Linked DNA regions of Homo sapiens. The protein of the gene in region 1 interacts with the protein of each later gene in a pairwise test. Each region holds a gene or a part of one and is shown in the gene's direction. Other genes may lie near its edges.

What was found. Proteins that work in one complex are often made in the same cells at the same time.
Region 2: the proteins of GLE1 (region 1) and RNF34 interact in binary tests that used the Homo sapiens proteins (3 or more experiments, as listed by UniProt).

The regions. Positions count from the first base shown.
Region 1 is NC_000009.12:128,521,706-128,528,729, forward strand, and holds part of GLE1 (mRNA export factor GLE1), read left to right. Parts: intron 1-962; coding exon 963-1,111; intron 1,112-1,574; coding exon 1,575-1,635; intron 1,636-1,884; exon of another isoform or gene 1,885-1,886; coding exon 1,887-2,141; intron 2,142-3,486; coding exon 3,487-3,718; intron 3,719-5,473; coding exon 5,474-5,586; intron 5,587-5,750; coding exon 5,751-5,820; intron 5,821-6,905; exon of another isoform or gene 6,906-7,024. UniProt on the Homo sapiens protein: Required for the export of mRNAs containing poly(A) tails from the nucleus into the cytoplasm. May be involved in the terminal step of the mRNA transport through the nuclear pore complex (NPC).
Region 2 is NC_000012.12:121,403,094-121,410,117, forward strand, and holds part of RNF34 (E3 ubiquitin-protein ligase RNF34), read left to right. Parts: intron 1-1,755; exon of another isoform or gene 1,756-2,020; intron 2,021-5,367; exon of another isoform or gene 5,368-5,382; coding exon of another isoform or gene 5,383-5,616; intron 5,617-7,024. Other genes in the region: KDM2B (lysine-specific demethylase 2B), read right to left, coding at 5,383-5,616. UniProt on the Homo sapiens protein: E3 ubiquitin-protein ligase that regulates several biological processes through the ubiquitin-mediated proteasomal degradation of various target proteins.

The DNA.
Region 1 (7,024 bases):
GTTAAGTGGTTTTAAATGTATTGCTGTTATCAACAGGGCTCCAGTGAGCATTCTTGTACATATATCTTTGCACACACATACAAGCATTTCCTCAGGATAAATTCCTGAAATGGAACAAGTGTCAAAGGATATAGACACTTCAAATTTTGATAGTTAAAATGTCAAATTGCCTTTAACCATATGTGAGTACTCTCATGAAATGATAAATTCAATATCTGATACCCTTAGGTACTAAGGAAAAGGACTTTCCTTAGTGGAGGTCCAGGAGAAAATCTTCGAGGCAGAGATTAACAAAATCAGTGAGATAGGAATGTGTATAGCTTGTTTATGGAATTAGAATGAGGATTTCCGTAAATTACCAATGAACCCCATAAGACTACACAGGATGGAAGCTTAATAGTGCATGGCTGTTTGATGTCATGTTGCTAAATTCCTGTCCGTTCCCAACTTGTACTGGAGTGACATAAACCATATGGGGCAATTGGAAGAGCTTTCCAAAACAGCTGAGCTTAAAGATCAAGCAAAAGGAGAAAGGATATTCCTGCAAAGGTTCTGATTCCATGCCCTTAAGTATCTCTGATGGTGTTAGGGGCCGATGGGCAGGTAGCCCGCAGGGGTAAATGATCAAGGTGTTGAAGGCGCTCCAGAGAGCAGGTGTTAAACATTTTCGGCCGGGCGAGGTGGCTCACGCCTGTAATCCGAGCACTTAGGGAGGCCAAGGCAGGCGGATCACAAGGTCAAGAGATCAAGACCATCCTGGCCAACATGGTGAAACCGTCTCTACTAAAAATACAAAAATTAGCTGGGCATGGTGGCAGGCACCTGTAGTCCCAGCTACTTGGGGAGCTGAGACAAGAATCGCTTGAACCCGGGAGTTGGAGGTTGCAGTGAGCTGCACTCCAGCCTGGCGACAGAGAGAGATTCCATCTTAAAAAAAAAAAAAAAAAAAAAAACCTTTTCAGGAGGGCCTGAGGCTATGGCAGGAGGAGCAGGAGAGGAAGGTGCAAGCCCTCTCGGAGATGGCATCTGAACAACTGAAGCGGTTTGATGAATGGAAGGAACTGAAGCAGCATAAAGAATTCCAGGACTTGCGGGAAGTAATGGAGAAGAGGTGAGTCTCCCTGAATTATGACTGGGAATGTTGATGTGTTCAACTGGAACTCTTTCCCAAGAGGAATTCCAAAGGGAAAGAGTTGAACAACTTCTGAGTCCTTAAATATCAAGGTAAAATAGGCAGAGAATTTTATAACCTGGAAAAAAGACCAAACTTGGAGAGACAACCAAAGGAACACAAAGAGGGAGGCTTTTAGGAGAGGTAAAACAATTTTACGGGCGTGGTGGAACACAGCTGTAGTCTCAATTACTAGAGAGGCTGAGGCAGGAGGATTGCTTGAGTCCAGGAGTTTGAGGCTGTGGTGAGCTATGCTCTGCAGCCTGGGCAACATAACGAGACCCCATCTCTAAGAAAAAGGGAAGGAAGGGAAGGGAGGGCAGGGAGAGGGAGAGAAAAGAAAGAAAGAAAAACAATTTCAGGAAGTATCCCTGACTATTCCTCCCTGCCATTTTTCATGCAGCTCCAGAGAAGCCTTGGGACACCAAGAGAAGCTAAAAGCTGAGCACCGTCACAGAGCAAAGGTCAGAGCCTGGCAGAATTGGTGTGGGTGTTTTGGTGTCTGTCTGTAACCTGCCTGGAGAGCCAGGTTTTGGCAGATGGCCACCATGGAGGATCTGGGCCGTATTATGCCTGTGTATGACTAACCTTGGGATGTCCTCTTCCTGCTCTGAGCCCATCTGTGAAAATATGTAGCCCACGTAGAATTTGAGGACTGTAGAAAGAAGAAGCCCAGGAACCCCTCAGAGAGAAGTCACTCAGCCCTTTTCTACAGATTCTCAACCTGAAGCTGCGGGAAGCAGAGCAGCAGCGCGTGAAGCAAGCAGAACAGGAGCGGCTTCGGAAGGAAGAAGGCCAGATCCGCCTGCGGGCCCTCTATGCTCTGCAGGAGGAGATGCTGCAGCTCAGCCAGCAGCTGGATGCCTCTGAGCAGCACAAAGCCCTGCTTAAGGTCGACCTGGCTGCCTTCCAGACCCGAGGCAACCAGCTGTGCAGCCTCATCTCAGGGATCATCCGGGCCTCTTCAGAGGTGAGGGGGGCTTCAGAGTGACTCTTTGCTGTCTTTGAAATGGAAGCCTTTAAAAGCAAAACTGTTTTCTGACTTAAAAAGTAATACCTGCTATCTGCTTATTGGGGGAAATACCAAACATTACTTGTTATCTCCATATCTCTTTACCTAGAAGTAACCACTGTTAACATTTTATTTTGTTTCTTTTATTTATTTCTTTATTTTTATACCTGCTTATTCTGGAGTCTTTTTTTTTTTTTTTTTTTTTTTTTGTGATGGGGTTCCCCTTTGTCACCCAGGCTGGAGTGCAGTAACACAGTCTCAGCTCATGCAACCTCTGCCTCCCGGGCTCAAGTGATCCTCCCACCTCAGTCTCCTGAGTAGCTGGGACTACAGGCGCATACCACCATGCCCTGCTAATTTTTGTATTTTTTTGTAGAGACAGGGTTTTGCCATGTTGCTCAGGCTGGTCTCTAACTCCTGGGCTGAAGTGATCCCCCTACTTCGGCCTCCCAAACTGCTGAGATTACAGGTGTGAGCCACGGTGCCAAACTTTTTTTGTTTCGTTTTGTTTTTAAATTAGCAATAGAGATCTCACTATGTTTCCCAGGCTGGTCTTGAACTCCTGGGCTGAAGTGATCCTCCCACCTTAGCCTCCCGAAGTATTGGGGTTACAGGCACGAGCCATTGTACCTGCCCTGTTTCTTTGCTTTGCTTTTTTTTTTTTTTTTTTTTTTTTTTTTTGAGACAGGGTCTCACACTCTTGCCCCGGCTGGAGTGCAGTGGTGTGATCATGGCTCACTTCAACCTCCGGCTTCCAGGTTCAAGCGATTCTCGGATTACTTGAGGCTAGGAGTTCGAGACCAGTAGGTTTCAGCCAACATGGTGAAACCCAGTCTCTACTAAAAATACAAAAATTAGCTGGGTGTGGTGACGCACACCTGTAATCCCAGCTACTTGGGAAGCTGAGGCACGAGCAGCACTTGAACCTGGGAGGCAAAGGTTGCAATGACCGAGATCTTGCCACTGCACTCCAACCTGGGCAATGGAGATTCTGTCTCAAAAAATAATTATTATTATAATAAAACAGTATTATTTTTGTCTAACATATTGTCACAAACTTTTTAAAAAATTACGCTGGCCCTTGTTGCTGAGAATACAGACCAATTTATACTTAGAAACTATGGATGTGACAGTAAGTTGGAATTATTAATACCTTTAAGAGAACAGGGAAAGAAGTATCAATTCGTTGAATGTGGATACTCCATTGGTGCAACAATTCCAATTGCAGGAAATTTATTGACTTGTATGAGGTATGATTTACCTAGGGAATGACCACTAAGCACCATCTCCGTCACTCTGACAGAGCAGCTATCCCACAGCAGAGAGTCAAGCTGAGGCTGAGCGAGCTCTGCGGGAAATGCGGGACCTCCTGATGAACTTGGGGCAGGAGATCACCAGAGCCTGCGAAGACAAGAGGAGGCAGGATGAAGAAGAGGCCCAGGTAAAGCTGCAAGAGGCACAGATGCAGCAGGGACCAGAGGCCCACAAAGAGCCCCCAGCTCCCAGCCAGGGCCCAGGAGGGAAACAGAATGAAGGTGGGTTTCAGTATGGATGTGGTCCTTTAACTCGTAAGTTTCAAATGTGAAGAGAAACAAGAGCATGTTTTGAATGTTGTGTTAAACTGTAGGACAGTTAACCAGAATTTTATGTAATGTATTTCATTCAGTTTTGGTTGATGTAGAGTCTGATTTACGATTCCAACACTTTGCGTGAGGACTTGAAATTCTGTATAACTCTAGCAGATACATTATTTCAATTATTGCTGCTGCTGAGTATTTTAAATAAATGCGCACAGATATGTGTTGGTGTAATACGTATAAGGGGTCAGGAGTTCGAGACCAGCCTGGCCAACATGCCGAAACTCCCATCTCTACCAAAAATAAAAAAATTAGCTGGGCATGGTGGCACGCACCTGTAGTCCCAGCTACTCGGGAGGCTAAGGCAGGAGAATTGCTTGACCCAGGAGCTGGAGGTTGCAGTGAGCTGAGGTGGTGCCACTGCACTCCAACCTGGTGACAGAGTGAGACTCCGTCTCAAAAAAAGAAAAAGAATCAGTGTACCATAGTGTTTGAGAGTGCTGACTCTGGAGCCAGATCAGTGGGAGTCTGGTTTTTGTTGTTGTTGTTGTTGTTGTTGTTTTTTGCGGGGAGGGGATGGAGATTTGCTCTTGTTGCCCAGGCTGGATTGCAGTGGCGCGATCTTGGCTCTCTGCAACCTCTGCCTCCCGGGTTCAAACAATTCTCCTGCCTCAGCCTCCCGAGTAGCTGGGATTACAGGTGCCTGCCACTGTGCCTGGCTAATTTTTGTATTTTTAGTAAAGATGGGATTTCACCACGTTGGCCAGGCTGGTCTCAAACTCCTGACCTCATGATCCACCCGCCTCGGCCTCCCAAAATGCTAGGATTACAGGTGTGAGCCACCGCACCCAGCCTGGGAGTCTAATTTTTCTTTTTTGGTGTGTTTTGTTTTTGTTTTTGTTTTTTTTGAGACAGAGTTTTGCTCTTGTTGCCCAGGCTGGAGTGCAATGGCACAATCTCAGCTCACTACAACCTCCGCCTCCCAGGTTCAAGCGATTCTCCTGCCTCAGCCTCCTGAGTAGCTGAGATTACAGGCATGCACCACCACACCTGGCTAATTTTTTTGTATTTTTAGTGGAGACGGGGTTTCTCCATGTTGGTCAGGCTGGTTTCGAACTCCCGACCTCAGGTGATCTGCCAGCATTGGCCTCCCAAAGTGCTGGGATTATAGGCATGAGCCACTGCGCCCAGCGTTTTTTGTTTTTTGTTTTTTTTTTGAGATAGGAGTCTCACTCTTGTTACCCAGGCTGGAGGAGTACAGTGGTATGATTATGGCTCACTATAGCCTCACCCTCCCAGGCTCAAGTGATCCTCCCCACTCAGCCTCCCAAGTAACTGGGACTACAGGCATGCGCCACCCTGCCTGGCTAATTTGTGTATTTTTTGTAGAGATGGGATTTCACCATGTTGTGCAAGCTGGTCTCAAGCTCCTGGGCCTGTCTTGGCCTCCTAGAGTACTGTAATTATAGGCGTGGGTCACCACACCCAGCCTTAGTTTTTCTACTTAGTAGTAATGTGACCATGGCAAATCACTTAACCTTTTTGTGCCTGTTTCCTTTTCTATAAAATGGAGATAATAATAGTATCTATTTCATAGTTATGGTGACAGTTAAAGCAGTCAGTACATACATAAAGTGATTATAACAGTGCCTGCCTCATATTACATGTTCAGTAAATACTAGCTATTACTAAAACCTCTCTTTTATTTCTCAGACCTCCAGGTGAAGGTACAAGACATTACAATGCAGTGGTACCAGCAGCTGCAGGATGCTTCCATGCAGTGTGTGTTGACCTTTGAGGGCCTGACCAACAGCAAGGACAGTCAGGTAGGGGAGAGGTATATGGCAGTAATTTTGTGGACTTGATGGTTCTCAGAGAATGATCACTTCGTGTCCCAAAGGAATGTAGCTGGCATGTCACTTTACCTGATTCTAAGTGACATCTACTCAGCTCTTCAGAACACTGCTTTCTCACTGTTCTCTTCTGGCAGGCCAAAAAGATAAAGATGGACCTCCAGAAGGCTGCTACCATCCCAGTGAGCCAAATCTCTACCATTGCAGGTTGGTCAGAGGGGTTGAGAACATGACCTTTCATTTCATTGTATTATCTTTCAGACTCCAAATCTATGTATCTGTAAGGTTCCTATAAAAGTATATTCAAACAAATGTTTACAGTTGGATCGGGTACATATAAGTGACATACATCTTGTTTCCCTGATATAATCATGGCTGGGCTCACGCCTGTAATCCCAGGACTTTGGGAGGCCGAGGTGGGCGGATCACGAGGTCAGGAGTTCAAGAGCAGCCTAACCAACATAGTGAAACCCTGTCTCTACTAAAAATACAAATACTAGCTGGGTGTGGTGGCTCTCACCTATAATGCCAGTTACTCAGGAGGCTGAGGCAGGACAATTGCTTGAACCCAGGAGGCGGAGATTGCAGTGAGCCGAGATCACACCACTTCACTCCAGCCTGGGTGACAGAGCGAGACTCTGTCTCAAAAACAAAAAAAGAAGACTCTTTTTTTTTTCTTTTTTTCTTTTTTTTTTTTTTGAGACAGAGTCTTGCTCTGTCGCCCAGGCTGGAGTGAAGTGGCGTGATCTCGGCTCACCGCAAGCTCCGCCTACCGGCTTCACGCTGTTCTATTCTCCTCCCTCAGCCTTCTGAGTAGCTGGGACTACAGGCGCCCACCACCATACCCGGCTAATTTTTTGTATTTTTAGTAGAGACGGGGTTTCACTGTGTTAGCCAGGATGTTCTTAATCTCCTGACCTGGTGATCCACCTGCCTCGGCCTCCCAAAGGGCTGGGATTACAGGCGTGAGCCACTGTGCCCAGCCCCCTTTTTTTTTTTTTTTGAGATGTAGTCTTGCTCTGTCACCCAGACTGGAGTGCAGTGGCGCAATCTCGGCTCACTGCAAGCTCTGCCTCCCGGGTTCACGCCATTCTCCTGCCTCAGCCTCCCAAGTAGCTGGGACTACAGCTGCCCGCCACCACGCCCAGCTAATTTTTTGTATTTTTAGTAGACACGGGGTTTCACCGTGTTAACCAGGATGGTCTCGACCTCCTGACCTTGTGATCCGCCCGCCTCAGCTTCCCAAAGCGCTGGGATTACAGGCGTGAGTCACTGCACCCGGCCTTTTTGACTCATTTTTAACAAGCTACCTTTTATGGCAAATTATTAGGATGGCTCTTAGCTTTGAAGTTGCAGTTTACTGCTGAAAACATCACTCAGGGAACCTAGGCTGTGACTTGCAGGCTTTGCT
Region 2 (7,024 bases), on another chromosome or scaffold:
TGGCTCTAAATAGGATAAAGAGGCCGGGCGCGGTGGCTCACGCCTGTAGTCCCAGCACTTTGGGAGGCCGAGGCAGGCAGATCACAAGGTCAGGAGGTTGAGACCATCCTGGCTAACACAGTGAAACCCTGTCTCTACTAAAAATACAAAAAATTAGCTGGATGTGGTGGCGGGCGCCTGTAGTCCCAGCTACTCTGGAGGCTGAGGCAGGAGAATGGCGTGAACCCGGGAGGCAGAGTTTGCAGTGAGCCAAGATTGCGCCACTGCACTCCAGCCTGGGCAACAGAGCAAGACTCTGTCTCCAAAAAAAAAAACCAAAACAAAAAAAAAAAAGGATAAAGATTTTGCTTTTTTATCAACTGTTTTTTCTGCTTTGCTTTTAGTTATGTAGGAAAGTTTAACCTAACCAAGATTAAACTGTAAAACCGATTATTTTATATCACCGTTGCTAAGATTTAATACATCTTTTTCCTGTCGTTTAACACAGGACATTGAGTTTTAGCAAACTGAAGGTTGTCCAGAGTTTGAAACAAACCCTGGACATATAGTGGGTGAGTTCTCTGAGGAAGCTTTCATTGATGGAAGAACAGTATCGCTCCTTGGTCCTTGTAGATTCATGTAGCATCTGAGACAATTATTTTTGAATTTAAAACTTCTAGGTTCATCCTTAAAATAACTGTGTAAATAATATATTTAACTTAGAGTTATGGCAAGCAAGGTAGACGCTTATGAGAAGAGTCTATGGGTTTATTATTACATTGCTATTTACCTAGTTTAATAAAAAGTGAATGACTGTGTAGTAACATATTAGAGTTTTGGCAAGCAAGATAGACTCTTACGAGAAGAGTCTATGGCATTATTATTACCTTGCTATTTACCTAGTTTAATAAAAAGTGAATGACTTAGATCATTTAGTTTTCTGTTTCTTTTTTTTTTTTTTGAGATGGAATCTCACTCTGTCGCCAGGCTGGAGTGCAGTGGCACGATCTCAGCTCACTGCAACCTCTGCCTCTCGGGTTCAAACAGTTCTCCTGCCTCAGCTTCCCAAGTAGCTGCCATGCCCGGCTAATTTTTTTTTTTTTTCTTCGTATTTAGTAGAGACGGAGTTTCACAATGTTGCCCAGGCTGGTCCCAAACTCCTGAGCTCAGGCAGTCCACTTGCCTTGGCCTCCCAAACTGCTAGGATTACAGGCTTGAGCCATGGCACCTGGCCTAGTTGTCTGTTTTCATACTCATAAACTTTCTTTTCCCACTCTCCCCCTATACTTCTCTTGTGTCTGGCTGTCATTTAATCTTTTTTTTTTTTTTTTTTTTTTTTTGAGATGGAGTCTCTCTTTGTTGCCCAGGCTGGAGTGCGGTGGCACCATCTCAGCTTACTGCAGTCTCCGCCTCAAGTGATTCTCCTGCCTCAGCCTCCTGTGTAGCTGGGACTACAGTTGTGCACCACCACACCCAGCTAATTTTTTTTGGTATTTTTAGTAGAGACCGGGTTTCACCATCTTGGCTAGGCTGGTCTTGAACTCCTGACCTCAAGTGATTCTGGCCTCCTAAAGTGCTGGGATTAGAGGTGTGAGCTACTGCGCCCAGCCTGTCATTTAATCTTCATGGAAACTACCATAGCTTTTCTGATTCTTCGTTCTAGTCTGGCTGGTTGATAATATATTTAATGGAATCATTAAAAGTTTAGGGTTGAAAATTTGTGGTAAATTTGTGAATTCTTTAAATTGAGCATTTTGAAGTATTTTCTCCCCACAGGGATTCTGAAAACATATTAGATTATACACACACAGAAGCAAAGACAGCTGAACCTTGAGGCCATTTGAAAATCCTGGCACTGTGCCAGAAAGAGAGCTGGGCTGCTGCTCTTGCAAAGAAACAGAACACCTTTCCTCTTGCTTTTGTTGACTGTAATGATGTTTCATGGGCTTATATTGTTTGACTCTGACTGAGGAACCTGAGAGAGTCCTTATAACCTTATTGGCTGGAAACTGTCATTCCTACTCTTACGCAGATTATTTAGGTTTGTATTCTTTCCCCTCCCATTTGCTTCCTCTCCTTTGCTCCTACAGAGGGGAGGGGGCTTCTAATTCATTTTTGGGGAGGGAACAGTATGGGAGAAACACTGTCAGTCTCTGCTATGGGAGGAAAAAGAGGGACTTGAATATTGAGGAGTTTCAGTGAAGGAACTGACATGCTTGGCTCAGTACTTTCTGGGACCTTCTCACATTTGTCTTCCTGTAGTGAAGATGGAGTTCTGGTCTCCACTCAACTAGCTGGTAAGCTGCTCTTGGTCAGCTGTATATTATCCAGACTTGGCTACAGAGCTAAGGTTCTGTTCTCCAGTTGATGCTATCAGTAAAAACAAACATTTTAATTTCCATTTGTCTTCTTGCTTTTTTTTTCTTTTTGAGACAGGGTCTTGCTCTGTCACCTAGGCTGGAGTGCAGTGGTGCAATCTCTGCTTACCGCAACCTCCGTCTCCCAGGTTCAAGCAGTTCTCCTGCCTCACCCTTCTGAGTAGCTAGGATTACAGGCATCCACCACCATACCTGGCTAATTTTTGTATTTTTAGTAGAGACGGGGTTTCACCATGTTGACCAGGCTGGTCTGGAACTCCTGACCTCAGATGATCCTCCTGCCTCGGCCTCCCAAAGTGCTGGGATCACAGGCGTGAGCCACCGTGTCCGGCCTCTGTCTTATTTCTTTTTTTTTTTTCTTGAGACGGAGTCTTGCTCTGTTGCCCAGGCTGGAGTGCAGTGGTGCAATCTCGGCTCACTGCAAGCTCTGCCTCCCAGGTTCACGCCATTCTCCTGCCTCAGCCTCCTGAGTAGCTGGGACTACAAGTGCCTGCTACCACGTCCAGCTAATTTTTTGTATTTTTAGTAGAGACGGGGTTTCACCATGTTAGCCAGGATGGTCTCGATCTCCTGACCTTGTGATCTGCCTGCCTCGGCCTCCCAAAGTGCTGGGATTACATGAGCCACCGTGCCCGGCCTGTCTTATTTCTTAATTAGCTCCAAATTGGATGTGGAAAAAAGGTACTGTTACTGGCTCCCTAAAATCTTGGTGCACTGTCTTTGAAGAAAAGAGGAGAACTGGCATTGGATACCAGAATGACATGAGGATATCTAGGTGTCTGAGGCAGTCCAGGCAGGTTTTAGAATTTGATTTCTTATTATGGAATGTGTAAGTTGTTGTTGTTGTTGTTGTTTGAGACAGACTCTTGCTGTGTCGCCCAGGCTGGAGTGCAGTGGCGTGATCTCAGCTCACTGCAGCCTCCGCCTCCCATTTCAAGTGATTCTTGTGCCTCAACCTCCCCAGTGGCTGGGACTACAGGCACTTGCCACCACGCCTGACTAATTTTTTGTATTTCAGTAGAGATGGCGTTTCACCACGTTGCCCACGCTGGTCTCGAACTCCTGAGCTCAAGCAATCCGCCCACTTCAGCCTCCCAAAGTGCTAGGATTACAGGCGTGAGCCACCGCGCCGGGCTGGTGTTAAGTTTTTAAATACGATACCTGGTTTTTAACTGATATAAGCCAGGCAGACCATGGTCCTATGGTGGCTCTACTGAGAGCAGCTTTGGCTTAAGAGAGTGGGTAGGAAAGGGATTAGACTATCAAGAACAAGTCATTTATTTTTAGTAATCACTGATGACTAGAAAATAAACTCCAAACACAGGTGAATTCTCTGAGCTTGGAGTTTTGTGCTAGGCATAGGCAGACAGTTGCCTCATTCTCTTATTCTCTATGTTGTTTTAAACTACATTCATGGTCAAGAGAGGAAATTTAGCTATCTTCACGATTATCGTTCTTTTTTAAAAATATAATTTCAACTTTTAGATTTGGGGGTACACGTACAGACTTGTTACATGGGTATATTGAGTGACGCTAAAGTTTGGGGTACAGTTGGTCCCGCCAGCAGGTAGTGAACACAGTACCCAACAGTTAGTTTTTCACCCCTTGTTCCTTTCCTCCCTCCTTCCCCCTCCCCCCAGATTATTGTTCTTTCTAAACTGTTAGAAAAAGGGTTATACTTCTTACATACCACTTGGATGCATGTGGTATAACCCATGGAGTTTTGCTGCCAACTAAGGTCCCCAAGTAGGTCATGAAAGCCCAGATCATGGCTTGCATTTTGAAAGTTCCAGACTTTTCAGAGATCTGGCTTTGGGCTTTATTCACGGAGGAGTAACTGTAGGGTTTTTTTCCCCCAATGAACAAATAATGGATGGTGACCCTTCCATAAAGAAGGCACCACTTTGGAATTGAGGCCAGTGAATTGACTGCAAATTCAGAAGCCAAAAGGGTATGCCTAGTATACTGTCAGAAGCCAGAGGTGGGGGTATGCCTAGTATACAACAACTCAGTGAATTGACTGCAAATGCAGAAGCCAAAGGCATATGCCTAGTATACAACAACTCAGTGAACTGACTGCAAATTCGGAAGCCCAAGGGCTACGCCTAGTATGCTGTCTTTCCAGGAATTGAGTTTTCTCAAAATCTAGGAGGAAATGGAGTGGTTTGTAGAAGATGCTTCAATCTTACTATCAGTATGGAAGCAATGAATGAATAAAAGAAAAATAAAGGAATACAGGCTAATTTAACTGGAGGAAGATCTTAAAGTATAGGGAAGACAGAAATGGAACAGGAAAGAACATGAACTTAGGTCTCTAAAGCTTTTAAAAGGAGGGTGCAGAAGAGGGATCCTTGTTGGTTATGACCCTACCGGATATGGTAACTGGGTTCCAAGGAAATATAACAGAGGCAGAGTGTGAAGAGCTCAGAAAATAGATTGGCATATGTTCCCCCCATCCCTTGTCCCCCTCTCCACTGTAAGAGCTCAGATTCAATAAACCCTTGGGGAAATTGTCTTTTAAATAGTTCTCCAATTGCTTTTATAGGTTCTGTCAAGTCATAACAGAAAATGTGGGCCAAGCGTGGTAGCTCATGCCTGTAATCCCAGTGATTTGGGAGGCTGAAGCAGAAGGATCCCTTGAGCCCTGGAGTTTGAGATCAGCCTGGGCAGCATATCAAGACCCCGTCTCTAAAAAAATAAAAATAAATGGCCAGGTGTGGTGGCTCACGCCTGTAATCCCAACACTTTGGGAGGCTGAGGCAGGCAGATCACCTGAGGTCAGGAGTTCGAGACCAGCCTGGCCAACATGGTGAAACCCCGTCTCTACTAAAAATACAAAAAATTACCAGGGTGTGATGGCAGGCACTTGTAATCCCAGCTACTTGGGAGGCTGAGGCACAAGAATCACTTGAACTCAAGAGGCAGAGGTTGCAGTGAGCCAAGATCATACCACCGCACTCCAGCCTGGGTAACAAGAGTGAAACTCTGTCTAAAAAATAAAAATAAAAATAAAAATAAATAAAAACTAGAAAATGTGTACAGATTTAAGAGGGGAAAGATCAGTATAGGACACTTCAAGCACTGTTAGGTGAGTGTCAAGGTGACAGTTGTAGGTAGAGATGCCTTTGCCCTGAGGAGGCATGCAGAATAAATTTCTGAAATTTATGAGAAAGTACAGGAAGATGAAACATACTAAAGGAGAGCCAGGTAGATGGAGTCCAGGCTTGGAAGGATTTATCTTCTGGATGGATTCTTCATCCTGGAGGTGAAGAAGGACAAAAACACTTTGAACAATGGCTGCTTTTGATAGACCCAGAAATCACTGACTTTCTCCTCATATTGGGAGATTTCACACAAGAAAACGTGCAGAGGAGTTAAGGTGGGAAATAAAAGTTGGGGCCCAAAGGCAAAGAGCAAATAAAATCAAGGAGAGCACCAAAGTCCAGCAAAAGTTACAGGCCAATCTGTGGTAAAAAGGAAAGGGATTCATTGAAGAATCAGATTGTTAAAAACTCAGGTGACCCTTTCTTTTTTTTTTTGAGATGGAGTCTTGCTCGGTCACCCAGGCTGGAGTGCAGTGGTACAGTGGCGTGATATCTGCTCACTGCAACCTCCACCTCCCAGGTTCAAACGATTCTCCTGCCTCAGCCTCTCGAGTAGCTTGGACCACAGGCGTGCACCACCATGCCCGGCTAATTTTTGTATTTTTAGTAGAGACGGGGTTTTACCATGTTGGCCAGGCTGGTCTCAAACTCCTGTCCTCAGGTGACCTGCTGGCCTCGGCCTCCCAAACTGCTGGGATTATAGGCATGGACCACAACACTTGGCCAAAACTTAGCTGACCCTTTCTTAAAGGATTGGGTAAAACCAAAGTGGGATGCAAAATACTACATATCCCACAACAGAAAAACATGTAGACAGGTCTTGGGGAGTATGTTGCCGAGGCATTAGTTCCAGAACTCTAGGGCCACAGGCTTCCAAAGTAACCACAGCCCTTTCCACTCAGGAATTTGTGGAGGGTGATGTCCCAGCTGAAACAGTGTAGGCAGGAAGAAGACATCTTCCCTTTGACTGAGCAGGTCTTAAGCTTTTAACCTGGCCTGTATATCAGAATTACCCAGGGAGTTTTCAAAAAAATTCTGGTGCCCAGGCTGCACCACAGACCAGTGAAATCAGAACCTCTGGGCCTGGGACCCCAGGAATCAGTATTTTTAAAGACTTGCCTGGTGAGTCCAACATGCAGCCAAGGCTGAAAACCATTCTCTTAAGGGCAGTTTCACAACCCTAGGCAATTCCTTAGCAAGAAGTACTGACAGCAGCTACGAAGGTACAGGACTAAAACACCTGTTTCACTGAAGGGCAGCGGGGGTGGGTGTTACCTGGCACTTCAGTGCTAAAATGAATGTAAAGAAATTATGTTCATGGCCAGGCGTGGTGGCTCATACCTGTAATCCCAGCACTTTGGGAAGCCGAGGCGGGCGGATCATCTGAGGTCAGGAGTTCGAGACCAGCCTGACCAACATGGAGAAACCCTGCCTCTACTAAAAATACAAAATTAGCCGGGCATGGTGGCAGATGCCTGTAATCCCAGCTACTAGGAGGCTGAGGCAGCAGAATCGGTTGAACCTGGGAGGTAGAGGTTGCGGTGAGCCAAGATCGTGCCATCG